Linked DNA regions of Homo sapiens. The protein of the gene in region 1 interacts with the protein of each later gene in a pairwise test. Each region holds a gene or a part of one and is shown on either strand. Other genes may lie near its edges. The genes, in order: EFCAB3, HPRT1, CBY2 and GPRASP2.

Evidence for each region.
Region 2: the proteins of EFCAB3 (region 1) and HPRT1 interact in binary tests that used the Homo sapiens proteins (3 or more experiments, as listed by UniProt).
Region 3: the proteins of EFCAB3 (region 1) and CBY2 interact in binary tests that used the Homo sapiens proteins (3 or more experiments, as listed by UniProt).
Region 4: the proteins of EFCAB3 (region 1) and GPRASP2 interact in binary tests that used the Homo sapiens proteins (3 or more experiments, as listed by UniProt).

What each region holds. Positions count from the first base shown.
Region 1 is NC_000017.11:62,376,725-62,383,567, reverse strand, and holds the start of EFCAB3 (EF-hand calcium-binding domain-containing protein 3), read right to left. Parts: upstream 3,016-6,843; 5' UTR 2,955-3,015; intron 2,539-2,954; exon of another isoform or gene 2,498-2,538; coding exon of another isoform or gene 2,449-2,497; intron 1,973-2,448; exon of another isoform or gene 1,516-1,972; intron 606-1,515; coding exon of another isoform or gene 589-605; coding exon 515-588; intron 1-514.
Region 2 is NC_000023.11:134,484,162-134,491,190, forward strand, and holds part of HPRT1 (hypoxanthine-guanine phosphoribosyltransferase), read left to right. Parts: intron 1-2,303; coding exon 2,304-2,369; intron 2,370-6,026; coding exon 6,027-6,044; intron 6,045-7,029. UniProt on the Homo sapiens protein: Converts guanine to guanosine monophosphate, and hypoxanthine to inosine monophosphate. Transfers the 5-phosphoribosyl group from 5-phosphoribosylpyrophosphate onto the purine.
Region 3 is NC_000013.11:45,698,446-45,705,332, forward strand, and holds the start of CBY2 (protein chibby homolog 2), read left to right. Parts: upstream 1-3,874; 5' UTR 3,875-3,945; coding exon 3,946-4,020; exon of another isoform or gene 4,021-4,070; intron 4,071-4,329; coding exon 4,330-4,410; intron 4,411-5,065; coding exon of another isoform or gene 5,066-5,146; intron 5,147-6,887.
Region 4 is NC_000023.11:102,708,626-102,715,458, forward strand, and holds the start of GPRASP2 (G-protein coupled receptor-associated sorting protein 2), read left to right. Parts: upstream 1-3,822; 5' UTR 3,823-3,927; intron 3,928-4,214; exon of another isoform or gene 4,215-4,381; intron 4,382-4,465; exon of another isoform or gene 4,466-4,504; 5' UTR 4,505-4,592; intron 4,593-5,156; 5' UTR 5,157-5,224; intron 5,225-5,563; 5' UTR 5,564-5,641; intron 5,642-5,783; exon of another isoform or gene 5,784-5,911; 5' UTR 5,912-6,244; coding exon 6,245-6,833. Other genes in the region: ARMCX5-GPRASP2 (G-protein coupled receptor-associated sorting protein 2), read left to right, coding at 6,245-6,833. UniProt on the Homo sapiens protein: May play a role in regulation of a variety of G-protein coupled receptors.

The DNA.
Region 1 (6,843 bases):
ATAACTAAAGTTATCATATAATAAATATTTGAAGAGTATTTTAATTGTTTCATCATAATCTTTATGAGCATTTAATATATTAGTAATTTTTTTTTGAGATGGAGTCTTGCTCTGTCACCAGGCTGGAGTGCAGTGGCACAATGTCAACTCACTGCAACCTCTGTCCCCCAAGTTCAAGCAATTCTCCTGCCTCAGCCTCTCGAGTAGCTGGCACCACAGGCGCACACCACCATGCCTGGCTAATTTTTGTATTTTTAGTAGAGACGGAGTTTCACCATGTTGGCCAGGATGGTCTCGATCTCTTGACCTCATGATCCGCCCACCTCGGCCTCCCAAAGTGCTGAGATTACAGGTGTGAGCCACTGCATCTGGCCAATAATCTCAATAATTTTCTTTTTTTTAGGGGCTTCCCAGTAAAGATCGGAAAACCTGCTAGACAAAATTCTAAAAGAGCTGTAACACTAATAATTCTTTATCATAATACATTTATCACCCTTAATCATTCATTACCTACCTTTTATTGTGGGAGATGGGTACTTTTGTTAGAGGATTCAGCTTAAGTTTTGGTTTAATTTCTGAAACTGCCATGTGGCCAGTGACTCTGTCTGGAATTCAGAATATACAATTAAGAAATCAGTTTACAGATTCATTCTTTATATTCTTTTGCAACTTTTTCAGCTCAAAGCCTGGAGTTTGAAAAGTCTAGGGCCTCAAGAAATGGTAATAGATGCAAACTCAAGTTAGAGGTATGCATAAAGTTGGAATGCCATGTGGAAATTCCCCTTCGTTGTTCCCGATTTCTGAGCAAAGTTGCTTGTCACTGCTCCCCCTTCAATTAGTGTCACTCTGATCCTATGTAAGAATAAATGCTAAGTGAAATAAGCCAGACACAGAAAGACCAATGCTATATGATCTAACTAATATGTATAATCTAAAATAGTTTAACTCATAGAAGCAGAGAGTAGAATGGTGGTTGAGGAAGGAGATATGGGGAGATGTTGGTGATACAAAGTTTGAAGATGAATAAATTCTGAAGATCTAATGAACAGCATGGTGACTACAGGTAATAATACTACTGTAATGTATACCTGAAATTTGCTAAGAGATTAGATCCTAAGTGTTCTCACTACACACACACACACACACAAATAGTAACTAAGTGAAGTGATGAATATGTTAATTAGATTGATTGTGGTGATTGTTTAACAATGTATACATATATCAAATTATCAAGTTGTACACCTTAAATAATAAAAATGGTGCCATGTGACACAGATAATGAGCATTCTGGAAATATATGGAAAAAGTTATTTAAAGATGCTATTTTATTATGAAATCAGTAGAGCATTTCAAGTCATAATTGACAAAGAATAAAATGTATTTGCCTACTTGTTTACATCTTAGATACCTGCCTAGTAGTAAGTAGATTTTCCCAGGGTTTCTTTTGGGGAGACTCATCCCTGCCCTGTCACTTCTTGGGACCAACTGTTGTTTGTTTGTTTGTTTTTGTTTTTGGATGTGTAAAAGGCTTTATTTGCAGGGGAGCAGGAATTTAATAAAAGAGACCAAATCCCATGTCATCGTCTGACTCTTTGGACACCTCCTCCTCCTCCTCATCTTCTCCTCTGCTGCAGCGGGGGTGGAACCAGCAGCAGGAGCTGCACAGCCTGGGGCAGCAGAGACAGCCACAGCCCCACCGGCAGGTACACTGGCAACCTTGCCAATACCCTGGGCAATGACATCTTCAATGCTTTTTCCATTCAGCTCACTGATAACCTCGTTGAGCCGGTCGTCGTCCGCCTCGATGCCTACGCTGTCCAGGATCCTCTTGATGTCTTTGGCTCTGAGGGAGGTGCTGCCCCCGAGGGCAGCCAGCAGGAGGGAGGTGACCGAGCGCACTGGGGGCGGGCGTCTACGGAGGCGGTGGCAAGGCCTCCATGCGTGCGATCTTGGTGGAGTCAGGGAGGAAAAGCCCAGGTGGTCTTGGTTAACAGTAGGAATGGGGGTGGGATACAATGCAGTTCTGCTACCCTAGACCCCGGAAGGAACTTGTGAATTACCGTCGCCTTTCCACTTGGCATAGTTTGAGAAACAGGGCTTATGGACCAGAAGCTGGGTTGGTAGGGCTTCCCCCTCTCTTGTTATTTGAACCAAGCCAAATGTCCAACAATGATAGACTGGATTAAGAAAATGTGGCACATATACACCATGGAATACTATGCAGCCATAAAAAATGATGAGTTCATGTCCTTTGTAGGCACATGGATGAAGCTGGAAACCATCATTCTCAGCAAACTATCGCAAGGACAAAAAACCGAACACCGCGTGTTCTCACTCATAGGTGGGAATTGAACAATGAGAACACACGGACACAGGAAGGGGAACATCACACACTGGGGCCTGTTGTGGGGTGGGGGGAGGGGGGAGGGATAGCATTAGGAGATATACCTGATGTTAAATGACGAGTTGATGGATGCAGCACACCAACATGGCACATGTATACGTATGTAACTAACCTGCACGTTGTGCACGTGTACCCTAAAACTTAAAGTATAATAATAATAAAAAAATGTAGAGTGTATTTGATAGTTCACTGACAAGAAAACTAGGTTGCTGACTTAGGAATAATGGATAATTGAATACTATCCAACCATGAGGAAAAAAAGTCTCTGAATGTTTGGTTAGAATTTGATCCATTTTCCCAGGTCTCCACCTCAGAGCCCAGAAAGCAGTTGTTTCTAAACAACTCAATTACAAGTCCTCAAAATCTGAAAACCTGCCACAGAGCTGGGAACACCAGAATGGCTCAACAATTCAGGCATTTGAAAGGTGCTGTGAAATCATCCCCATACCTCAAAATAATCATTTCTTTAAAAAAATACCTTCAATTCTCATAGATAATAGATTTTTTAAAAAGGACTTAGCATAGAATCCTACAAAATCACGATATTTACCTACTTTTAAGCCGTGCTACCTACCACTTCTGGGCTTCAATCAGATCAGGAATCCAATAAAGGGTTTGTTCCATCACACAACTGTGACCTCATTCACTGCTCAGGCTCAAGCCTAGGGAGAGAATGACCCAGGAGCTCCTTCCAACCTTACAGCAAGTGTGTTTTCAGTGTGGTTCATTCAGCACCCTTGGTGTATATGAGGGTATGATTTATAAAATCTGAACATTTTGACACTGTTGGAATTTCAGGGAAGGGGGAGAATTTTTGTTTCAAGTTCTATATTAATATATTTTCATGTTAATGTCTTCATCAGGCTGGGTGTGGTGGCTCATGCCTGTGATCCCAGCACTTTGGGGGGCCGAGGCGGGCAGATCACCTGAGGTCAGGAGTTTGAAACCAGCCTGGCCAAATGATGAAACCCTCATCTCTATTAAAAATACAAAAATTAGCTTGGTGTGGTGGTGCACACCTGTAATCCCAGCTACTCAGGAGGCTGAGGCAGGAGAATTGCTTGAACTTGGGAGGCAGAGGTTGCAGTGAACTGAGATCACGCCCCTGCACTCTAGCCTGGGCGACAGAGCGAGACTTTTGTCTCAGAAAAAAAGAGAAAGTCTTCATCAGTCAGTTGAAAGTTGTTCAATTAAAACATTTTACTCAGCTGCCTTCACTGAATGGTGATTAAGAATCATTTCATTAATTGTTTAAGCCTAGAAAGAGAGGCAAAAAAACTCTCATAGGCTGTCTTTAGTATTATTGGGAAAAGTGCTTTCAAAAGAACAATTACAGAAAAGATTGTTTTAAGCAGAAACCAAGGTATTCATGATCTGACATGTCTCATGGCATTATAAATACTCTAGCGCAGGAGTTAGGAGTGTCTTTAGTCTATCATGGCTAAGTACAGATATCTCTGGCACCCAAGGCTTAGCTAGTTATATAGTTGGGCCCCTAAAAGTGCTTCAGGTTTCACTTGCAGCAGTTCTAGAGGTTTCCTATTCCTGCTCAGGGGGATTTGTTCATTATGAGCATAATTTGACTTTAACCTAATCTTTTTAAGCTTGGTACACTGCCTCCCATTCTGGACAGGAACACACAAGGAAAGAAAGGGAAGGCTTAATTTATAAATTAATTCAACAATTATTTACTAAGAGCCTACTATATTAAAGGCTACTTACTTAGATTTTTTTTTTTTTTTTTTTGGTGAGGTCTCACTATGTTGCCCAGGGTTGAGTGCAGTAGCAGGATCATGGTTCACTACAGTCTCGACCTCCCAGGCTCAAGTGAGTCTTCCACCTCAGCCTCCCCAGTAGCCAGGACTACAAGGTGCAGGCCACCATGCCCAGCTACTTTTTTGTATTTTTGGTAGAGATGAGGTTTCACTATGTTGCCCAGACTGGTCTCGAAATCCTGGCCCCCAGCAATCTCCTTGGCCTCCCAAAGTGCTGGGATTACAGGCGTGAGCTACCATGCCCAGCCTTATTGTTGTGTTACAGCATTCTTTATATATTTTGGAGACTAGATCCTTATCAATTACATAATTCACAGATATTTTTCCCTATTCTGTGGGTTGTCTTTTTACTTTATTGATAATGTTCTTTCAGCCACAGAAGTTAGTCCTGGAATTTTAAAGCTGAAAGATAACTAATAGATCATCAACCTAATTCTGCCCCCAACCCACCACATTTTTTTTTTTGTTATACTTTAAGTTCTGGGACACATGTGCAGAACGTGCAGGTTTGTTATATAGGTATACACGTGCCATGCGGGTTTGCTGCACCCATCAACCTGTAATCTACATGAGGTATTTCTCCTAATGCTATCTCTCCCCTAGCCCCCCACCCCCCTACCCCCCAACAGGCCCTGGTGTGTGATGTTCCCCTCCCTGTGTCCATGCCCATTTCATTTTTTTTAAAAAAGAGACAAGTTCTTTCTTTGTTAGCTGAGGCTGAAGTGCGGTGGTGCAGTGATGGCTCAATGCAGCCTCCAATTCCTGGGCTCAAGTGATCCTTCCACTCAGCCTCCCGAGTAGCTAGGACTACAGTAGGCAAGTGCCACTACAACTGATTAATTTTAAAATTTTTTATAGAGAGGGGGCCTCGCTGAATTTCCCAGGCTGGACTCATAGTCCTGGCTTCAAGTGATCTTCCTGCCTCCGCCTCCCAAGGCTCTAGGATTACAGGTGTGAGCCAGTGCTCCAGGTCCTCACCCATTTTATTTTACTGCTAAGGACACTAAAGCCCAATGAACTGAATTAATTTCCTTAATGGCAGAGTCAGGAACACCTGCTTTGTAAATTGTACTGTGATACCAAATAGGCTACAGTGTTCTTAGAGGTTAAAAAAATCATAAATGGAGCATTAGAAAAGAATATAAAATACCTGATAATCACATGTGATTCAGTGTGGTGTGGACTATAAAGGTACAAGGAACTTAGAAAGAAAGTTGGAGAGATAACGGTGTTCATTCACTTTATGGACAAGTAGATGGAGGATAGAAACTGACAAGACAATTAGGGAAAGTAACTAAGGTATTAAAAAATGTAAGTCAAAGTATTAAGCCCCATCTTTACAATGGCTTCACATCAGCTTTCACACTCACCTTTAATATCATTTGCAGTTTTCAACTTATGCAGAGTCACCATTCCTTTTGCTTAAAGACAAGATTAAGAATCAAAATTACATGAATTTCTGAAGTTATGGAAAGTAGACTAGGAGGGCATAATTTATCTTATTTTTTTCCCCAGATGAGTGAAAAAATTAAGAAAATGTCAAGGTTATATGGGATATCCATCTTTCATATTGTTTCTTTTGGTGCCTTAATGCATTGCACTCCAAAAGCAAAAATTGAAAAGCACTATAGTGTCAGCATTGAAATCAAGACTATTCATTTATCATCTTTTAGGATGTAAAGAAGTGGAATGACTTTGAAAATCTGTTGATTCAGGAGGAAGATGATCTGTTACCCACTTCATTTTCATGAATGCTTTGTTTAGGAAGGTATTGACTAATTAGATACCTTTTAATGAGATAGATATTTCTTTCTAGTGAATTATCCTATCAAATATGTGGGTATAATTAACTAACTGCAAAATCTCCCTTCACCCCACCCCTTTCTATGGCCAGAACAACAACCAATCAAAACCTTAATAGTACAGATTTAACTTTTTTTCTTTTCTTTCCTCTAAAAATGTGGGAGTAGTTTTGTTTTCTAAGCATGAGGAGATTAATACTCAGGAAAAAAGTGTGGCTATAATAACTCAGTTTCCTATGTTTGGTTTGGTTTGGCCTGGCCAGATAAACCAATAATGTATTATTTTAATATCAAAAAAGGTCCATGGCAGATGATGAAACACAGAAACATGGAAAATGCTTGGTGATCCCTTTAGGTTATAGAGGCTATATAAGGTAATATATAATGCAGAAAGCAATACATATAAAGAAGAAATATCTTTCCTATGGGGAAAGGATTAATTCTAATATGAAACACATAATCTGTAGAATTCAGAAAAACCTACACCTATGAAGCAGCTTTTCTTTTCCTGCCTCTGATCTGGTCACTCTCTCTCTCTCTCTCTATTGCTTGGCTCTTCTCCCTTCCTGGATATTAGTTTGCTAGAGGCACCCTATGCCATTCTTAGACACTGCACGTGGCAACATGATGGTTGAGAATGTGACTTAGAAGATGACAAGAAGCAGACTTTATTTTTATATGGCGACTTTTTTTCTAAATGTATGTTAGACTTTCTCTGTGTCCCTAGTAAGTAAAGTTTTAGAAATTCTCATGTGGAACCTTACAACCCCAGTGCCTCTGAAGGCCAGAGTGAAGTTCTGAATGTTCACCATCAAATAACATAAATTTTAGCAGGTCTTGAAGTTGTTCATATATGAATGTT
Region 2 (7,029 bases), on another chromosome or scaffold:
GAATATTTTTTCCTTTATTCCTCTTGTCTCTGTAAAGACATCAACTGGAGTTGGACTGTAATACCAGGTATCTCCAGAAGATGGCACTATTTAACAGATTTTATAAATAATTTGATGTGAGTCACTGTCATCTGAAGCTTGTTGCCTTTTCTTTCTTTCTTCTTTCTTTTTTTTCCCCATCAATTCTGTATGTTTGAAATGCTGGGTTTTAAGTTAGTTAGAATAAGGGATGTCTGTAATTTCCCTAAATTGAGAAGTAATATGCAAAGGTTGATATCAGAAGTCATATGCTCACCTTGCAACACCAAATAATACTGGCCCATTTGTGATTTTTGAAAGTAACACTCCATAATAAATGGATGTATATATAGAAGCATAACAAAAATAGAAGCACATAAAAGTGAAAAGTCTCATAAACGCCATTGTCACTACTCATGTAATTGCTGTTACAAATTTGTTTAAATGTTGAATAAAAATGGTGTCATAGGCAACACAGTGTTCCACTACTTGGTGTTTTTAATAGCATTATTCTGTCTCAGTGTGCTTTGGATTATCAGGTGCTTTTTAATAGTTGCATGGTATTACATTGTGTAGATGAACTTGATTAATTTAAATGGTTCCCTGTTAATGGACATGTTGGTTTGTTTTTGTGAACAACTGATACAGTGAACATTTATTTTTTAAATAAAAAAAAGAGAGACAGGGTCTTGCTGTGTTTCTCGGGCTGGCCTTGAACTCCTGGGGTCAAGCGATCGTCTTGCCTCTGCCTCCCTGGGATTACAGGCATGAAGCCACCGCACCCGGCCCAGTGAACACTCTTGAATGTATCTTTGTATACTTGTCAGTGTTTTTGTAGCATTGATTCCCAGAAGTGGGATTACTGGATTAAGTGACATGCATGTTTGCAATTTTAACAGGTATTGCTATGTCATTTTCAAAAGAAGCTATGCCAATTAATACTCTCACCAACAAGAGTGCTTATTTCCCCTCAGCATATTATCAGGCTTAAGTTTTGCCAGTATGGGTGGGAGAACAGTAGAATCACATTGTTTTAGTGTTTGTTTCTCAGATAGATATAATTTTACACCTTATAACCTTCTCTTCTATAAATTGTCTATTTGTGTTCATTCTCCATTTTCCTATGGGTTCTTATTGTTGGAGCCCAATATATAAAAGGGGGTATTTGTTACAGAACCTCTTCAGTTTTGGTTCATGTCATGCCTGGGTTTTTACCCTTTCTACGGATGTTAAAAAAAATTCTCTATTTTCTTCCAGTCCACTTATGGCTTTATTTTTTACATTTAGATTTTAATCCGTCTGGAATTTATTTTTGTGTATGCTGTGAGGTAGGGACCATACTTTTATTTTTTCCCAAATGGGTTACTAGTTGGCCAAACATCATTTATTGAATAATTCATCTTTTCCCTACTGACTCGAAATACCATCTTTATTGTATACTAAATCCTCATATAGTTCTGGGTCTGTTTCTGGGCTCTACTTTGTTCATTTACTGTGCTGGTACTGCACCGTTGTAATTGCTGTGGCTTTGTGGTATGGTATGGCTTGCTCTCTGCTAGGGCAAGTCGAAGCTCTTTTGTTCACCTGCTCTTTCACCCAAATTTTCTGTCCTGAATCCAGCACAGCCAAATTATGGTCATTGTCACCACCAACTACAGTGGGTGTTGAGCATTTCCCATTGAATCTCCTGTAAGGGTTTTATTGGATTCTGTGATAGCAGTAAAATGGGAGCCTAAGAGGTATTCCTTAAAGGACTACTAATCAGACCTGGTTTCCCAGATGATGCTGAAGATGACGGGGCCTGGGCTAGACTTTTGAGGGACATATCCTTGGGGTTGGGTGTGATATAGACCAGCCCTTACAATTTGCTTGACTCATGGGAATCGTACAGGGCCAGAACCAGACACCTGTCATGCTAATAACTTCCCTCACAATTCAGAAATCACTGTGATTGAAGATGGGTGGCTGTTATAATACTACCCACTTAAAAATGGATGTAACCCATTTTTTAGGACTCTTAAAAACATCAAATCAGTAATGGCCGATTAGGACTTTTTAATTTTTACTAATCTCTACTTGAAAGTTTTCTAGTCATTCATTTCAGGAAACCTAATTCTTATAATTCATATCATTTAGAATATCATAATGCTATGGATATTAGCTAGCTAACTTCTCAAATCTTCTAGTTCTCATTTAATTTGAAGTTTGTGTGTGTACATAAGGATATACATATACATATGTGTGTGTAGATATATATATATATAGTTTTTTTTTTTTTTAACTAGAATGACCAGTCAACAGGGGACATAAAAGTAATTGGTGGAGATGATCTCTCAACTTTAACTGGAAAGGTATGTATCTTGAAAGGGAAGAAAAAAAAGCACTTCATACCGAGTCAATTAGTAACAGTGTGCTTTCAATCAATCACTAAGAGATAATTTACATAGTATAACTAAATGGGTTATTTAACCCTTGGAAGCAGTCTAGGTTAATTATCGTTCCCTAGGTCATGTAGTAAAAAGACAGTAGAATCCAACATTAACCTTAAATGTCCATATTGTCAAGTACTGCTGTCTGCCTCTGTGGGACTCTAATTTGGGATCCTTCAAAAAACATTGATGGGGGAAAAGATAGCCTTTAAAAAAAAAAAAAAAACAAACCTATGTGAGTCTATGTGAGGTAGACTCACATAGTTTCCTAAAAGATAGCAAAGCAGTATTATGTAGTGGCTGAAAGTGTGAGTTCCGGAGCCTGACAACTGATTCAAAGCATGGCTTAGTACTTCCTAACTCTGACCTTGGGCAAGTTACTTAACCTCTCTGTGTCCCATATGTGATTAGGGTGAGGTTGATAATAGCAGCCATAGAGTTAAGAGGATTAAGTGCTATAATGCAAGTAGAGCTCTTACAACAGTTTCTGGTAAATCACTCAATAAATTCAGACATACTATTATTTTAAGAAATCTCAAAGAGTTTTCTTGTACCTTAAAATTCTCCTAGTGTGAACCATTGGTTTTGGTATATTGTGCTTCCATGTAGTTTAATATCAAGATGTTTTTAGATTTCCCTTTTAATTTATTTGTTGACCCATTGGTTGTTCAGGAGCATGCTGTTTACCTGAAAATAATGGAGATATTAAGGTATTTGAATATTTATCTTCTAGTACATTGAAAAACTTTTTGAGAGTAACCAATAATAAATGATGGAATGCTACTGCTTTTTTTTTTTGAAGCTGCCAGTTATTGTTTACTTACACTATGCCAAATATAAAGGCATTAATCTCATAAAAGTTTCACAACAATCCTGTGAGGGAGACGATATCCCCATTTTACAAATCAGGAAATTAAGACTTAATAAGGTTAAAAGACTTGCCCAAAGTCACAGAACCAGTAAGTGGTAGAGCTTGAATTTGAATACAGACCTGACTCTAAAGCTCTTTTCTTTCTTTAGATTTTAGTGTTCATTGCTTACTTGAATGAGTATCTATAAGAAAACTTTAACATGTAAAACTTCTGTGAAATTATCTTGTCCCATATCAGGGTCATGTCAAACTAATGTCCTCCTCAGCATCTTTGGAAAACTTCAGAGGAGAAATGAGCTTTGCCCCTCCTGTTCATTTCATATACCACTGTTAGACCTGTCCTTCCCTTTCAGCATGCTTTGTCCATATTTAGAAGCTGTTGAAGCCATTACTTGTCTGGTCAGTTTTTAGTGCTGGAATGGACCTAGCCTTTTAGGCCTTCTGAGATTTAGTTTGATCTCGTCTTTCCCACCTAATGGCTCTGTTCTACTACATAGATTTGATCTGAAACAGTTCTCTGTTTCTAAAATAACTTTCTTTTCATGATAGTCACAGTAAAGTACATTTATTATGGAAAAATCAATAAGTATAACGAGTGAAAGTTATTTCTTGGTGGTAAGATTATGGGATTATTTGAACTTTCTGTTTCATTGTATTTTATTTATTTATTTATTTTTGTGATGGAGTCTCACTCTGCTGCCCAGGCTGGAGTGCAGTAGTACGATCTTGGCTCACTGCAACCTCCCCTTCCCAGTTCAAGTGATTCTCCTGCCTCAGACTCCCAAGTAGCTGGGATTACAGGCGCACGCCACCATGCCTGGCTAATTTTTTTATCTTTAGTAGAGACAGGGTTTCACCATGTTGACCAGGCTGATCTCCAACTCCTGATCTCAGGTATCCACCTGCCTCAGCCTCCCAAAGTACCGGGATTACGGGTGTGAGCCACCCTGCCTGGCCTCATTTTGTCTTTTGGGGGTATTTTTGTGTGCAGATATATATGTATATAAATATTTTTCCCTCTTTTCCCCAGTTAGTATTTGAGCAGATGAACTTTGGACCCGAATACCTGTATTCAAGTCTCTAATACCACTTCTTGGCTATTTTCATTTTATCAAATGGCCTCTTATCCTCGTTTTTCTCATTTATTAAGTAGAGATGTAACTACTTGATATAATTCAAAAACTCAATAATGGCATTCTTTTGTTTTTTAGACTCTAGTGTCTGTACTCGTTGTACCATGCTGGGATTCATTTGAACAATTGCATGGCTTTTTTAGTGTATTATTAAATTTGCAGTTTACTTAGAATTTACTGGGACCTCATACAAATGGGAAAAAAACATAACTGTGTTACTCATTTGCTGTGTGCCTTTGGATTGACCCTATTTTTTGTATTCATTTTCTCCCCATGTCCTGAGTTCCACTTTGAATAAAAAGTAATTTTTTTCCTGCCTGTAAAATAGGCTACCAATAGGCTGCAGTTGTCTATAGTAGCTGCTTCACTGAGGAGAGCTCAGCATGAGAGAAATAGTATGAATTGCTTGCCACAAGTTATGGGCTAGCCTTACTTCATTCTGTACTTGGACCTGTTTAGGCTTCTAAGAGATCTTACCTCCAACAATAAACTGCTTTGAGACATGAAAAGGTGGAAGCTTTACTTGGTTATAACTTTACTTTTAATACCTAGAACAGTGAGTCTTCAAACTTGTATTTGCATGCCCAATTTATAAAAAGTTTCCTGAGCATTTACCCCTAATATATGCATTTTAAATTATATATGATTTATGGTAATAATAATATATATGTTACAAAATACATACAAAAATATAGATTAAACAAGGTGAGGTAAAAAATTTAAAAGTTCTAATCTTTCTTGCAAACCAGTGGATCTTTTGTGCCTTACTCTGGTAAACACTGTCTTAGAAGAATATATAGAACATTAAAATCTTAATGCTATAGTTATATGACAGAGTATGATGAGAGCTACAGATAAACAACACATCATGAATCTTCTTGTGGCAGTGTTTATAACCATTATGTGAAATGCTGCCTCATTCTTATAACTAGCATAAGAACAGATAGGACTTTCTCGATTTTGAGGGGTAATTATTAGATGGTATTTTCTGTTAAGGACTCTTCCAGCTATAAAATTCTTAAATGTAGAAAGCGAAGTGAGGGTTTATGGTGAGAGGAAGCATTGGTATCATGTTTTAGTGTAGTCCAAGAATATGGACACATCCAGAAAATGCAGATCAAGTTTAGCCTAATGAGAAAATATATTTTGGAGTCCATATGGTAAATTAAATTATGTGATTTTTGAGTTATTGTACAAATATAATTCTTAGAATGTTAGAGTCAGGAGACTATAAGAGACCAACTGCTTCAAGTTTCATTTAACACATGGGAAACTAAGGCCAGAGAAATTTCAAGACTTGCCCAAGATTAGACCTCTTGTTAAGTAATGAAAGTGTTTTAAAAACAGGTGGGTCAAATTCTGTTTTTAAAATTTCCATTATGATGAAAATTTCAGTATTACAGGCTTCCAAATCCCAGCAGATGGGCCACTTGTTTAAAGGAGAGTTTGATATAATAAAGCATCTAAAAACAAGAGTTTGGATAATTCCTTAGGGTTGTTATGATGTGATTTGACTTATAATTGGAAATACCGTTTTATTCATTGTACTGATTTTCATTTCTCTTTTTCTTCTAGAATGTCTTGATTGTGGAAGTAAGTTCACATTTACTTTTAATATAACATTTATGACTTTTCTAACTTAGTATGCACCATCCTAAAGGTAAGCCAGGGAGAGAAATTCCTCTGCATCAGTTTTAATGGTGGGCTTGTGTTCTAAAGGAGTGAGATTGGTTTTTTGTAAAGACTACTTAGTAATTTGTTTTTACCAATAATGGAATGGTATACTTCCTACCTCTCTTTTTTTAGTTTGAAGTATTTTCTTTCTAAACATAACTCTCTCTCTCTATTTATCTATATATAATATATACATATATATCTTATATTTTATGTATATATATATATATCTTGCTTAGATTTTGTCTTATGTAATATTTGGTACATAAAAAATAATATTTATAATTTATAGACTATTTTCCATGTGTTATTATGTGCTAAAGTATTTTGTATCTTAGCACCGAGAGGCTAAGCAGTTTCCTAGGGTTACCAGCTAGTAAACTAAGGGAAACCTTTACTTCCTTTAGCTCAGTGGTTCTCAAAATGTGGTTCCCTAGACCAAAAGTATTAATATCAGACAAGAACCTACCGAATCAAAATATCTGTGATGAGGCCCAGCAAGCTATGCTTTAACAAGTTTCCGAGTGATTCTGATGCATGCTAAGGTTTAGGATCCCTTGTTTTTACTCATAAGTCACTTTCTCATTAAGGCCTTCCCTGGCCATCCTATATAAAATCTCATGTTTTCACACCGTCAACTTCGTATTCCTCCTCAATACTTTTATTTTCCTGATCACTTATCACTAACAGCCTCTCTCTCTCTCTCTCTCTCTCTCTATGTATATATATATATATATCACTTATCACTGTCTAACAGCCTCTCTTTATATATATATAATCTATAGATTATATATATATGCAGCATTGTGCAATCATTATCACGCTCAATTTTAAAACATTTTCATTGCCCCACAAAGAAACCCAATCCCCTTAGCCATCACTCCCCATTTCCCCTTCCCCCAGC
Region 3 (6,887 bases), on another chromosome or scaffold:
GCATACCCATAAACATAACCAAAAGAAGATCTAGTATTATTTAGCATTTGATAGTGTCTCCCATAGAGTTTTACCAAATAAATCCTACCAAAGACGTTAAAAATTCAAAACATTTGATCAAAACAGAGCTACAGGTCATTTAAAAATAACAGTTATTCATTTAACTAGCATGACAGTCAAAAGACCTCAAAAGTAATACAGAAAGTTACATGGGAGGTTTCCTGGTTATATGAAATAATTCAGACATATCATAAGGCCAAGAGTATAAAATTATATTACATTTGAGGAAAACATTGCTTTTCTAAACTTTTAAGATAAATATTTTAGCATTATGCCATAAGAACAGCATTAGGACTGGGGTAAAAAGTTGTAAGAGTTGATGAACAAGTTGAAGAGGACAGTTATCATTCCAGCCAAGCAAAAAGATATTTTTTTTTCAAGGGGGAAAAAACAGAAGATAATGAATGTGATCTGCAACTTATATGTAACAAGGTGCAGGAAAAGTTGAACTTCTGAGATATAAATCTGACGTTTTAATTTTAGAATTTAAACTCAATATTTCTTGCAATATCATTGAGAGCAAATCAATACTTCAAAAAATTTTGTTGCTTTAACCAAAATTTTTAGTTTTGTATTAGCGCATTTTTAATATTACAGCTAATTTTAATAAGACCTTATAAACAAATCTATTCAATCTCAATTTGTTTTGACTGCAAGGTAAGATTTCCATAAACCTTTTATAACCTCTTACAATTTGTTTTATTTTCATTCTTTCTCAACTTTCTATATTTATTTAGTTTTATCTACACTTTTTTAATTCCTTCAATTTAAAACAATCCTTTAGAACCTCTAAACTAGGCAAAATTACTTGCCCTTAAACGAAAACCATATTCCTGTCTTCTTGTGTGTTTACCAAAAACACATCCTATTTTTCGTATACATTCTGCAAATAGAATTGTTTCTCTTGTATCTAGTAGTTTCAATTACTTATATAAGTTACAATATTAACTCTTAGTAATCCTTATTTTAGGGATTTTAGGGAAGAACCTAGGAAGTAAGAAATCTTGAATTGTCTGCAATATATCAGTATTTTAAGATAAAATATTATAAGTATTTCATGTATTTTAAAACCATGTTTTAATCTTTAGAAACATTTCCTTATACATTTCTTAATTGGAAGTGACCCAGCTGCTCAGTAAGTAAAGTATGATAGTAAGTATCATAACTTTAAGATTTTGAAAAACATAAGAATTTCATTTACACACATTTGTCCCATTTACATTTATCTAATTTATTTGTTTTTAACAGTTTATCTAGATTAGTTATGAGAATAGAGATATTAGACAAAGCTAGTCACCATTTTAAGTTATTTCCTTGTTAACCATTTTACAGCTTGTGAATATCAGGTGTTCACCTAAGCAAGAACTTTAAAGTGAAATACACAGATATTTTGCTGATAAATCAGAGGATTTCATTGTTTTCATTAAACCAACAATATTAAATTAGTCTTATTTATCAAAAGAATCACATAAACAAAGATTATTCTGTTTTGGCCGGGTTTGTAATTTCATAACTTTTTGCCAAACCTGGACATCTTAAAATAACTATCAGATGCACATATCAGCTGACCAGTAAACACAGGCAAAAATACATGCTGACAATCCTGAAGACATATCTATTTTTATTTTATCAATAATTTTTTTTTAATTTTCCAAAGATTATTAAAGTCAAATGAACTTGAAAGCATTTGGACTTATTTATTTAATTTATCAGTACTCTTTTATTTATAAGCTAATTTGGTACCATATAGACACAACATATAACATAATGCATGTATATGCATAAACAAGACAGTTGGATCAAACTTATTTTCCTGATAAAACTGGAATCTGTTCACATGGCTAAATTTTATTTGCCCTGATGAGCAAAGCAGTTTCCAGGGCACTTTGATTTTAAAAGACCTCTTTCCTTTTTTTTCTTTAGCCAGTAACCTGAAACTAGTAATACCATGAACAGTAAGTTTTATTTCAACACCAGCAGAAAAGTCAGCAGATTCAGAGTAGTCAGGAAGGAAAAATAGGCAAAGAACTTAGAAGACTACATGGTAACTCTTTAAGGACAGAAGAAGAAAGAGGGATTGACTGAAAATGTTTTACATGTGCCATTTTTCTTCAGGTTTTCTAGTTTATGGAGTTGCTTTGTTCTAATTGAGTGTGCAGGAGTCTGGAGATCTCATAAGGCTTCTGCTGTAGCCATCACAGTCTTTGACCTCTGTTAAGCCAAATATTGCTACACAGACCAAAAATACAGACAGACCAACAAAAATCAGAACCAGACTAGATTATCTTAGTGGCTGTAGCTTTTTAGTATTGCCTTAATTCTTTGGGACTTAAACATACACCAGATTTGGGACTCTGAACTGACCAGAATCCCCCTTGGGTAGGACTCAAATCCACAATCCTAGACAAGGTTGGGACTCTCATCCATAATCCTAAACCACAGGGTGGGACTTGAACCCACAGTCGTTATGATGAGTTCAAAGACAATTAAAAGTACAGGGGCATATTAACAAGGTACTCACCAGAAAGATGTCTAATCCAGAAGCAATTTATTTTCCCAAAAGAGAAGTGCCAAGGGAGCCTGAAGTGCCATGGTGGAGAAGAAGGAACCCTATAGTCGAGCCTCTGGACACCCTGGTCTAGGTGGCCACTCAGGATCAGTGCAGGGGGCCTGCACACCACTAGGGGCAACAGTACCTTGGACAGGCTGTTCGTCTCACCTGGGGTTCTAGTTTGTTAACAAGCAAAAGGGGCTCACTGCCCAATGTGCTAGAAGCCAACACTGACACCAAATTTTTGAAAAAAAGAAAAGCTTTATATTAAAAGTCACCTCTGAAGGAGACAGGAGTCAAGCTCAAATTTGTCTCTTTCTGCTGGCATTAAGGCAGTACTTTTATTAGAAAAGGTTCAGGGGGTGGATTCTGAGATTAGTAGGTGATTTGTGCAAGGAAAAGGGAGGTCTGGAAAGTCCTTGGGCATGCATAGTTATTTCTTCATGTTAACTCCTGAGTTGCATGGCAAATTCAGGGAGAGTTAGTATGAAACGTGGTGGAAATTCAGGCTATGACATCAGCAAGCTTATTCTGTGCAAGCTCCAGTTAGCCATCTTGGTTCCAACCAGTTTCAGCCAGGTTTTTCTTGATCTCACAAGTGGAGGGAGTTTCAGCGGCTTAAGTTTCTTTTCTTATCTGCTATCTTGAAACTCAAAAATTAAGTAACTGGTTTCTTACTCTTTGGGACTTTCCAGACCTCCCATTTCCATCCACCAATCACCTACTAATCTCAGAATCCACCCCCTGAATCTTTTCTAATAAAAATACTACCTTAATGTCAGCACAGAGAGACAGATTTGAGCTTGACTCTTGTCTCCTTGGGAGTTGACTTTCAATATACAAGTTTTTCTTTTTTAAAGAACTTAGTGTTTTAGTATTGGCTTCTATTGCATTGGGTAGTGAGCCGCTTCAGCTCTGTAACACTAACTCTGGTAGATAGCATCAGGATGAAATTGAATTGTAGGGCACACAGTTGGTGTCAGAGAATTAAGGAATTGAGTAGTGTCAGAAAACACCTCAGACTACACTTTCTCCCTTGGTATGGGAAGAGTTCAGTTTGTGTTTCTTTCTTCTTGAGTGACCCAACTCCAAGAAGATGCCACTTCTGGAGAGAGAATAGGGATCTCAACTTAGCCTGGCAGTGAGAATACGAATGGCAGCTGGAATGACCCAACAGGGGGCTAATGTTTGGGCTATTGTGTGTGTCACACTGACCCTGACCAGCCAAGTAGTCACAGCACCCACAAGCTCTTCCTGCCTGTCAGATGCCTCATTCCCACCTGTGATGCTCAGAGAGAAACCATGAGCCCTGAAAAACACCATATTGTTTTGTGATGTCACCTCTGGAATGTTCTGAGTGTTTTGGTGACCAACTTCTGCATAGGACCTATACCTGGCAACTCACATTGGTATGGCTTTTTACTTGAGATAGAAATAATCATCTTAGACAGGGAAGCAGGTACAGCTATCTCCACTTCAAAAACTTTCAAAAGCCTTTTACATCAACTATAATATCTAGCTTAATATCTGTTCAGAGATTGATAAACCATCATGCCAGATATCATCTACACGTTCTTTCAGACTCAGACTTTCATAATTGTACATAATTGACAAGAGAGAAATAAATGAGTAGAAAGTTCTGTGTTTTTTAGGCGAGCAATTGAGGCCCAGAGGATGAGCTGGGAAGCAGTAATCTTCTTCTTTTCTCGTTTCCACAGCACTCAAGGCCAAATTATACAAGAAAAAGAGATACCAGATCTGAAAGCCTAGAAATTCCAATCAGTGTGGTTCTACCTCAGGTAGGGATAATCACAGAAGGATGTAACCTATCAGTGTTAGCCAGAATAACCCCCCATCTCCTCCTTCAAAACTCTAGCAAGATGTTGTAGAATAAGCAGAGATAGTCAGGGCTTCAGATTATAGTTTGGGTTGGGTGCCAGCAGGCGGTGTGCTGGGGAAGGCCACATAGCCCCTCTGGGCCTTGGGTTCTTTTTCCCATGAATGAGGTGGCTGGGTCAGATGATCTGGTAAGAACTTCCAGTCCTAACATTCCAAGTTTCTATGATACACTGAAGTAACCCAGCCTTCTCAAAACGAGATCTTTTGGTGCTTAGTGTTGTGCAATCACTCTGGATTTCTGGGGGAGAATTAGAACTGGGACTTGAAATCAAATGCATAAGAATGAATCCATGAGAAGAAAACCTCATCCGTGGACAAAGGGGTACAGAGTTATTTGGAGCTGTCAAGAGAATTAAGCCCTGCTATGCATCAAAGACAGATGTAGGGGCCATGGGCATAGATGCTTTTTCAGTCAATGAATTGGTGAAGTCCTCACAGGCTATAGAGTCTCAGGTCTCCTCCTGCCTGCAATCAGCTGTTTCCTTAGTGGAGTCCTCTTGATTGAATTGTTTCTACTGCTGCTATGTCACAAAGGGGTGGCTTTGCTTTCTCCAGAGTCACCTAAGTCCTCATTGGAAGACCAGGGCCATGCAACCAGAGGGGTTGAAATGTAGGATGGAGGAATCCAATGCAGAGGTAACTATCTGAGAGCTCTGTCCAGGGATGTGTAGGAGGAGGATTGACCACTGGTGGGCATTCCATATATATAATTGTAACAATCTAGGCAAGTATGTTCAGCGGGAGGCAAAAATATGGAAGAAGAAAACATCCTGGATGTTTATTTTCACATTATCTTTATAACTTTGTAATGAACAGTCACTTTTCTGTTACTTTTAGCCCATGAATCTTAGCCAGAATATAAGATAACTTCCCCCTGATCATTCAACAAGATAACAAGCTGTAGGAATCTTTTTGGGCCTGATTCTTTCCACCTGAAATACGCAGGGAGTTGTGTTAGCCACTACTCCCCCAAGAGTGGGTGTTACTGCTGTGATTCCTCATAGCCCATATAAACCAATCTTTTCTTCCAGAATCCTGGGGCCCCTCAACTTTACATGCTTTGAAAGTACCTCAGATGGCTGAATGTTCTCTGATAGTAACCCTCGGTAATGTTAGCAAAGTTGGTGTTTAAGAAACTTGGTCAGGCAGAGGATGCCAACCTAGGGGTGGGTGTGAAGGAGGGGGTAGGATTTGAAAGAGTAGTGGTCATGTGATAGAGAAATTGGAATGATGTTTCCATCAACACCCACCGCAACTTTCCCTCCCCAGCTCCCAGAAACAGCCCAACGATCAAGGAGAAGAGAAGGTGGTTTAAGACAGCTCAAGCTTGTCTTGGGGCTGCCTGCTTCCTGTGCTGGAGGACCTGGTGCTGCTGCTGGGGTCTTGTGGGGCAGAGTGGGTGAAGAATGAGAGGATATCTCCTGTCTGGGCACGTGTACCTCACAAGGGCAGATGCAGCTTCGTGCGTACACCTGCCAAGAGGGCACAAGCCATGCACCAGGTTTTGGACACCTGTCAGGATGCTCAAGACTGGCACTCTGGGGGATGGGTGTGGGTGTCTACAACTAGATGATCCGAACCAAAATACCACCAGGCCTGCGAGAGGGACCAGTGTGCTCACTCTACCTCCCTAAATGAGATGGCACATGGCTTAGGGGACAGGGTTGATCTGGGAAGCAAGGAGAGGAAGAAATATTGACTGAATGTTGGTGCGATCATGTGTCGGGCATGGGGCCAAGCAAGTGTGAGGTAGAGATTTTACAGGTACAGGAACCGGCAACCCCAGGAACCCCACTAGTAATGGCAGAGCTCGAGGAAGGGGCTTGAACTCAAATCAGTGCCCATGTTCTCCGCTATACTAGGGCACATGCCAGTAAGCTGGGCCATGCTGCATCTTAGCTCCATGGTTCTTCTCTTGCTTTTTGGAGATGGAGTCTTCTCCCTGCATCTTAACCACTCATCTCTGGGCTTCTTATTTTGTATTTGCCAAAAGCTGCTCTATTCTGGGATGGAGTCCACTTTCCATTTGTTTCAGAAAGGACTTGTGGCAGCAGCTCTGTCTCCAGAGACTGCCTCTGGCTCCCAGCTGCCAGTCCTGCTGTGCGTTTGGGCTTCTCAATTACATTGGAAATGCCTGTGATCACTACATGTTATCACCCTAAGGTCTTTTCAGGACTCATTGATTTCCTGTTTTTCTTCCTCACATTAAATATTTGTGTTTTCTGATCTCTTTCCCTCCAGCACATTAACTTGCAAGCCATCAGTGTCATTTCCAGCCCAAGCTAGCTGATCTCCTGGTTCCTTTTGTATGTAATGATTCAGTTCTCACAGACTTTCGCGTTTCCCCAATGAACGTGCTCTGTGAATTTCATTAAGG
Region 4 (6,833 bases), on another chromosome or scaffold:
AGCATGATCCATGAAAGAACAAATTGATAAGTTGGGTCTCATTAAAGATTATTCTCCTCTACAAAATAAACTGTTAAGAGATTGAAAAAGAGAAGCCACAGAGAAACTATTTGCAAAACAGACATCTGATAAAAGATTGCTATCCAAAATATACATAAGAATTCTTAAACTTAACAATAAGAAAACAATCAACCCATTTTAAAATTGGGTAAATGATGGGAACAGACACTTGGCCAAAAAACATATTCAGATGGCAAATGAGCATATGAATACATACTAAATATCACATGTCTGGGGAATTGCAAATGAAAATGACAGTAGAAAGTCCAAAGTTAAGCTAAAAGGGTTAAAACAGGTCCTTGTCCACAGTGAGTAAGAGGGACAAAAGGAAGTAATGCAAGCTGCTGCACAGGCAAGGGATATACGAGTGTGCAAGTTCACAAGCGTGCATGTGGGAGATGGGGTGGGGTTGGGGACAGAGAGGTGGGTATCATGAGTCAGTACAGCTGCCTCTTTGTCCTGGGCTTAATGCTTGTGAGTTATTTGTTTTGGAAATTTAGATTTTAGGAGCCAGTCAGGGTTACACAGGTGCTGGTGGAGGCACTGAGGAGTAAAACCATGGCTGATGCAATCTATTAGACTGGAACACATTTTAAGAGGAAATAAATAGCTTGTACCAGTCAGACAGGCATAGGTCAGCATCTTCTTTTAACTTTTTATTTACTCTCCACTTTAAAAATGACAAACTATCCGAGCTGGTTTCCTCATCTGGTATAAGGAGGTAGTTATAATACATTCTGGTAATAGTCTATAATGTCTTTACACACAAAGAGGTTAGAACAGGGCCTTTCTCAGTTCAGTAAATGTCTATCATAGTCCCTGTTTTCTAAACGAATTGACATCAAATTGCCCAACACGTTTCAAATTCTCACAGTAAAATTGATCAGCTTTTGGTAGAACCACCCCTCTATAGGTAAATATCTTGAGAGCAAGATCCCAGCGCCTCCAGAATTACCACAGTAACTTGTGCTGGCATAGTTTTCGATACATCTGCAAACTTTCAGAATAGGGAATTGAACAGGAAACCACAGGTGAATGTAAGCACCACAAGAAAGGGGATTCATTTCTCTTTGGTTTATACTGTATGCCCACTGCCTAGGAGAAAGTAGGAGCTCAATATATATTTGTTGAATAAATGAAAGGCATCAGTAACGTTATGAAAGGGGAAGAACAGCTCAGGAAGGCAAAGAGATGTACACGCGCCAACAAATTCCAGCAGACCCAGGCTCTGTTCTCCCAAGCCTGTAATTCATTCATGAGAGTATGCTGTGGAACAGAGAAAATCCACCATTCAGTTAAGGCCATGAAAAAGGCAGAGTTAACGTGGTCTTCCTCTAATACATAACATTCATCTCCAGATGTGGTACAGAATCATCCTCACATGTTTTCTTCATATCAGCAAAATATTGTACAGTTATAGTAAATATCTGGTAACAAAAGCTGTATGGAAATATATGAAAATTCATCATAAGAATAGGGCTCCTGGCCAGGCACGGTGGCTCACGCCTGTAATCCCAGCACTTTGGGAGGCCGAGGCAGGCAGATCACCTGAAGTCAGGAGTTCCAGACAAGCCTGACCAACATAAAGAAACCCCATCTCTACTAAAAATACAAAAAATAAGCCAGGCGTCTTGGGGCATACCTGTAATCCCAGCTACTCAGGAGGCTGAGGCAGGAGAATCACTTGAACCCAGGAGGCGGAGGTTGCAGTGAGCCAAGATGGCACCATTGCACTCCAGCCAGCCTGGGCAACAACACCGATAGTCCCTCTCAAAACCAGCAACAACAACAACAAAAGAATAGGGTTCCCTTTTGTACCTGGGAAATATCAGTGGTTTCAGCAAAAAGGAACTTTCTCCAAGATTACCTATAAGGGACATAAAAAAAATCACTGTCCTTTAGGAAGCAAAGAAGAGGCAATTGATGTTTGTAGTGGTGAGGCATGAGCTCCAAAATAGATCTTCCCCAGAGACTGATCCACGGGTAAAGAAAGTCAAGGGGAATAGACTTCATCAGGATGGTGAGTGTATTAGGTTCATACTGCTGCTTTAACCAATTACCACACATAGAAGGGCTTAAAATAATACAAATTTATTATTATCTTACAGTCCTAGAGGCTGGAAATCTGCAAAGGGTTTCATTACACTAAAATCAAGATGTTGCCAGAGGAGCTATCCCTCTGGCATTTCTAGGGAAGAATCTGTTTCTTTGTCTTTTCCAGGTTCTGGAGACAGCCTGTATTTCTTGGATCTTGGCTTCCTTCCATCTTCAAAGCCAACAATGGCCAGTGTAGACCTTCTCATGATGCTTCAATCTGATATTGAGTCACTGCCTCCCTCTTCCACATTTAAAGTACCCTTGCAATTACATTGGCCAAGATAATCCAGCATAATCTTAAATTAAATTCAGCTGATTAGCAATCTTAATGATCCTTTGCCAGGAAATATAAAATGGTACATGTTCTGGAGAACAGGACATGGACATCTTTAGGGGACCGTTACTTGCCAAACACAATAAGGGTAGCACCTAAATGAGTTTTCAAATGGACAGCAGTAACAACAACATCAACTTCGTATTTAACCACATTGCTCTGTCTGTCCCATGCAGGAAGCAGGGAAAGGAGGGGCTCAAGAGTAGAGGACGGATGTTGGGGTGAAAGAAGAGGATTCAAAAGGAGCCAGGTTGCTTTGTCTCGGGGAGGGGGGTGCACGGTGGGATCCTCTCCTGAGAATGACTGCTGAAACAGCAGGTAGTTGTGGCAGGTGGCTGAGATCCAAGCTGGTTCGAATACCAGCCACATTTCCACACTGCCAAATGTCATGGCAAGAGAAGACTTGACAGGGAACCGAAGAGGAGCCAGGACCATCCCTACCTGGCGGCATCAAAGAGAGAGGACTGTTATGACCTCCTGCGGGTCCTGACAGGGAAAGGTCCTCTTCTGGGGGCAACTGTGGCGACGGCGCAATGCCAACGTGAGCCACCATTTGAAATGAGAAAGAGCAGTGTGGCAGAAAGGAATGAGTTTGGTGCAGACCAGTGGTTGGTTTCCTAGGGTTAGAGGTCTAGGTCTACCTTCTTTTAGAAGAGGGGCAGTGGTGAGTCCTTGATGGGAGCCCCCTGCCCCGGAGTTCACTTAAGAGCAGGTGTACCTTCCTCCCCTGCGTGGCTCCACGAAGCTGGGAAAGAAACGCACAAGAGGACCACCCTAGAGCCCCGGGCCTGTATGGCCTGAAATCGCCTCTCCCCTCCCACACTGCAGTGCTGACACCCCCTTTCCCATCAGCTTCCAGAAAGGAGGGTTAGGGGACTGGGGAGAGGGAGGGGGCAGACACCCAGCAGTCCCTGTGAGGGGGGCGGTTGGGGCGGGGGTGCAGACACATCACGGGGCGGTTTGGTATCCATCCGCTGTTCTCTCCAGCGCGGCTCTTCCCGACCTCGCGATCCTGTCCCCTGCCCGGGCCCCCAGCCGCCCGCTGGTCCCATATATTACAGCAGCGACAGAAATATGGTAGTGGTCGCCACGTTAGGGTCCGTGGGGGCCTCCTGAGGCAGCCTGGTGCCAACCCGCACGCCCAGGCTGGGGCTCATCCTGGCCCTGCCCACCTCGGGGTCGGAACTACGGTGGGCCTGGGATGGGGGCGTCAAGCACTTTCGCGCCGTATCCCTCCGCCCCCCTTCCCGACACCCTCGCGGCGAGCGGTTCTTGCCGCATCCTGCGCAGCCCCTGCCTACTTTGGTGCAGAGGCGTGGGGGGCGGGACGCGTCTTTCCCGTTCGGATCGCGGGGAAAGCAGTGGCTCCAAGTGAGCCAGAGGAGAGCTGAGGAGAGGAGGGGGAGGCCGACGACCTGGGCCCTGGGCCTCTGAAGGCAAGTGCGGGTGCATGAGGTGGGGGTCCGGGTTGCGGGGGTGGTCTGGCAGGGTGGACCAGCAGGCAGCCTGCCCCGCGGACCCTGACAGCCTGGCAACGAGGAGACGATCCGGTCGGAGCCAGGCGCTTGAGAGAGGTGCGCAGTGCCCGAGACCCCTGGCGATGGGGAGGCGGTGACCGGAGCGGGCCTGGCCAAGGGCTGAGGGGCTGGCTCGGGAGGCACCGCCAGATCGTTTGGAGGAGAACCGCGCTGACCGCTTCCCAGCCAGCTTTGCAGGCGCCCGCGCCCCGCCCTCGACGGTGTCTGTGCCCGGAGAGGGCTGTGGGGGAGGCTCCTGCGGGAGAAATGGCGGAGCGGGAGCCGCTGTGGGGGCGCCCGGGAAGGCCGTTGGGGGGCGCCCGGCGAGGCCGGCGGGGGTCGGCGTCCCGGCTCTGTACCCAGTCCGCCGGAGGTGAGCCGCGTTTGCTACTCCGGGTCCCGATTCCCGAAAGGGGCCTGTGGGGCCCCATGTCCTCGGTGCCTTCCCTTCCCACAGGCTCCAGGTTGATGTCAAAGTCTTGTGTCTGTGCGGTAGGTCTGGCGTATTCTGACAGGACACAGTGAGCGTCTGTAGAGGAGAGGCTTGAAATAAAGGAGCACGAATATTGCCTGGATTTCTGGAGGTGTGTGGGGATGGGGGTTGGGCGCTAAACACTGATTGGGGACCCGAATCGGGGTAGGGGACTGTGACCAGAGCAAGTCAGGCATCCAGGAGCACCTCCTAATCTTCACCTCTCTAATGGCGCTCCCCCCACCTTCCATCCCCACCTGTCTCCCCCACCGTCCTAAACTGGGGGCATGAAAGGGTGGGCTTTGGAGGTGGGGGTGATGAGGGAGACATACTGACAAGTACTAATTCACAACCTGTTTTCTAGAATATGCGGCGCCCTTCCCCCATTTTATGCTGCGCAGAGCAAGGGGATGTGGCGCACCTAGTGGTGAATCCTCAGAATTGGAGAAGGGAGTAATGGGAAGAATATGACGTCAAGAGAAGGAGTTGTTATCTCTGGAACCTTGAAGCAGGGCCCAAATAAAACGAGAATATTCCACCAGCAAAACCCCGAATGTTGAAAGACAGATACCAATAATATGGGGACTCTTATCCTTGGCGTTGGCCTGTCTACCAAGTGCTCTTCTGCCACCACTCATATCCTGACTGTCTTACTTTTTCATGTGTTTGTCCATAGGCCTACTTTAAGGCTGGCCAATTCTGCAAGAAAGGCAAGGAGGAGGAGACTGGCTCACAGCTCTGGAGGTTAGTGAGAAGGGGGAGAGGACAATGCAGGGGACAGTTGGAGAGAGCATGGCAGGTGGCAGATCCACTTCCACCTGTAGTAGAAGTGGCAGACCCACTTCTATTCTGCCGGATTTGCACAGTGCCAGCATCCTTTTTATTTCTTGCAGGAGACACGAGATAGGTGTAGGTTGGGTTGTGACTCAGAAAAGACCTGAGAGCAGGGACTAGGACACAGGAAACCATAGATACATTGAACTCTTGAATGGGAAGACAGATATTTGTCACAGGGGCCAGAGTGCCCACCTACCTACCAAGCACTCACACTCCATTCTCTCCTGTATGTTCACTTGTCTGTAGGACCCCCTTCTGTCAGCTGTGGGGCTTGACACCACTTGAACAAGAAAAGGAGGGGGAAACTGCACCACATCAGTGAAGGTTGGTATGAGAGCGGGTATACTTTTGGGCGGGGTAGTGGAGACCAGCATGGGTCCGGGAGTGATTAGGGTCCAATCTGGGGGCTTCTTGGCCCCTCCCATTGCCGACACACTTTCCCACCATTGTTGGACCTGTTTTGTAGGAGGCAGCCGGTCCAGAGAGACTTTCTCAAAGCCCAGCTGTCCCACCTAGCATTCAACATCAGTCGCACTGCATACGTCTCATACAATTGGAAGAGACTCAAAGCCTCATTTCATTCTCTCTCCCTAGATCCACCTCCAGTGGCTGCTCTGCTGGTGGTGGAGTTGCTGCTGACAACCACCCTCAACGGGTCTGCACCCATCCAGGAAATATCTGTCTTCCTTTAGCTTGGTTGTACCTGTTCTCACTCTATCTGTATTATTGAATTATTGACTGAGACTGTGTTTGGGAAGGAGGCTGAGTGACTACTGGACTGGATATTGACTCTAACTCTTATTCCCAAGCTTATATCCTTAATCACCTAAAGATCAGAGTGTGAAGAAACAAACCTGTGACAGATCTGTGGTTGAGGTTTAGACTACGGGAGGAGTATATTACCTGACTTTCTTTGTAACTTGTACCATGACTGGGGCAGAGATTGAGCCTAGTGCCCAGGCCAAGCCTGAAAAGAAGGCTGGGGAAGAGGTTATCGCTGGGCCTGAGAGAGAGAATGATGTCCCTCTGGTGGTCAGACCCAAGGTTAGGACCCAGGCAACTACTGGGGCAAGGCCCAAAACTGAGACCAAGTCTGTGCCTGCGGCAAGGCCCAAAACTGAGGCCCAAGCAATGTCTGGGGCAAGGCCCAAAACTGAGGTCCAAGTAATGGGTGGTGCAAGACCCAAAACGGAGGCTCAAGGAATCACAGGGGCCAGGCCCAAAACCGATGCCAGGGCAGTAGGTGGCGCTCGTTCTAAAACTGATGCCAAGGCAATCCCTGGAGCAAGGCCCAAGGATGAGGCCCAGGCATGGGCCCAGAGTGAATTTGGGACTGAAGCAGTGTCACAGGCAGAAGGAGTGTCCCAGACTAATGCCGTTGCTTGGCCACTGGCCACTGCTGAGTCTGGATCAGTTACTAAATCTAAGGGCCTGTCTATGGATAGAGAACTAGTCAATGTGGATGCTGAAACCTTTCCTGGCACCCAGGGTCAGAAAGGAATCCAGCCCTGGTTTG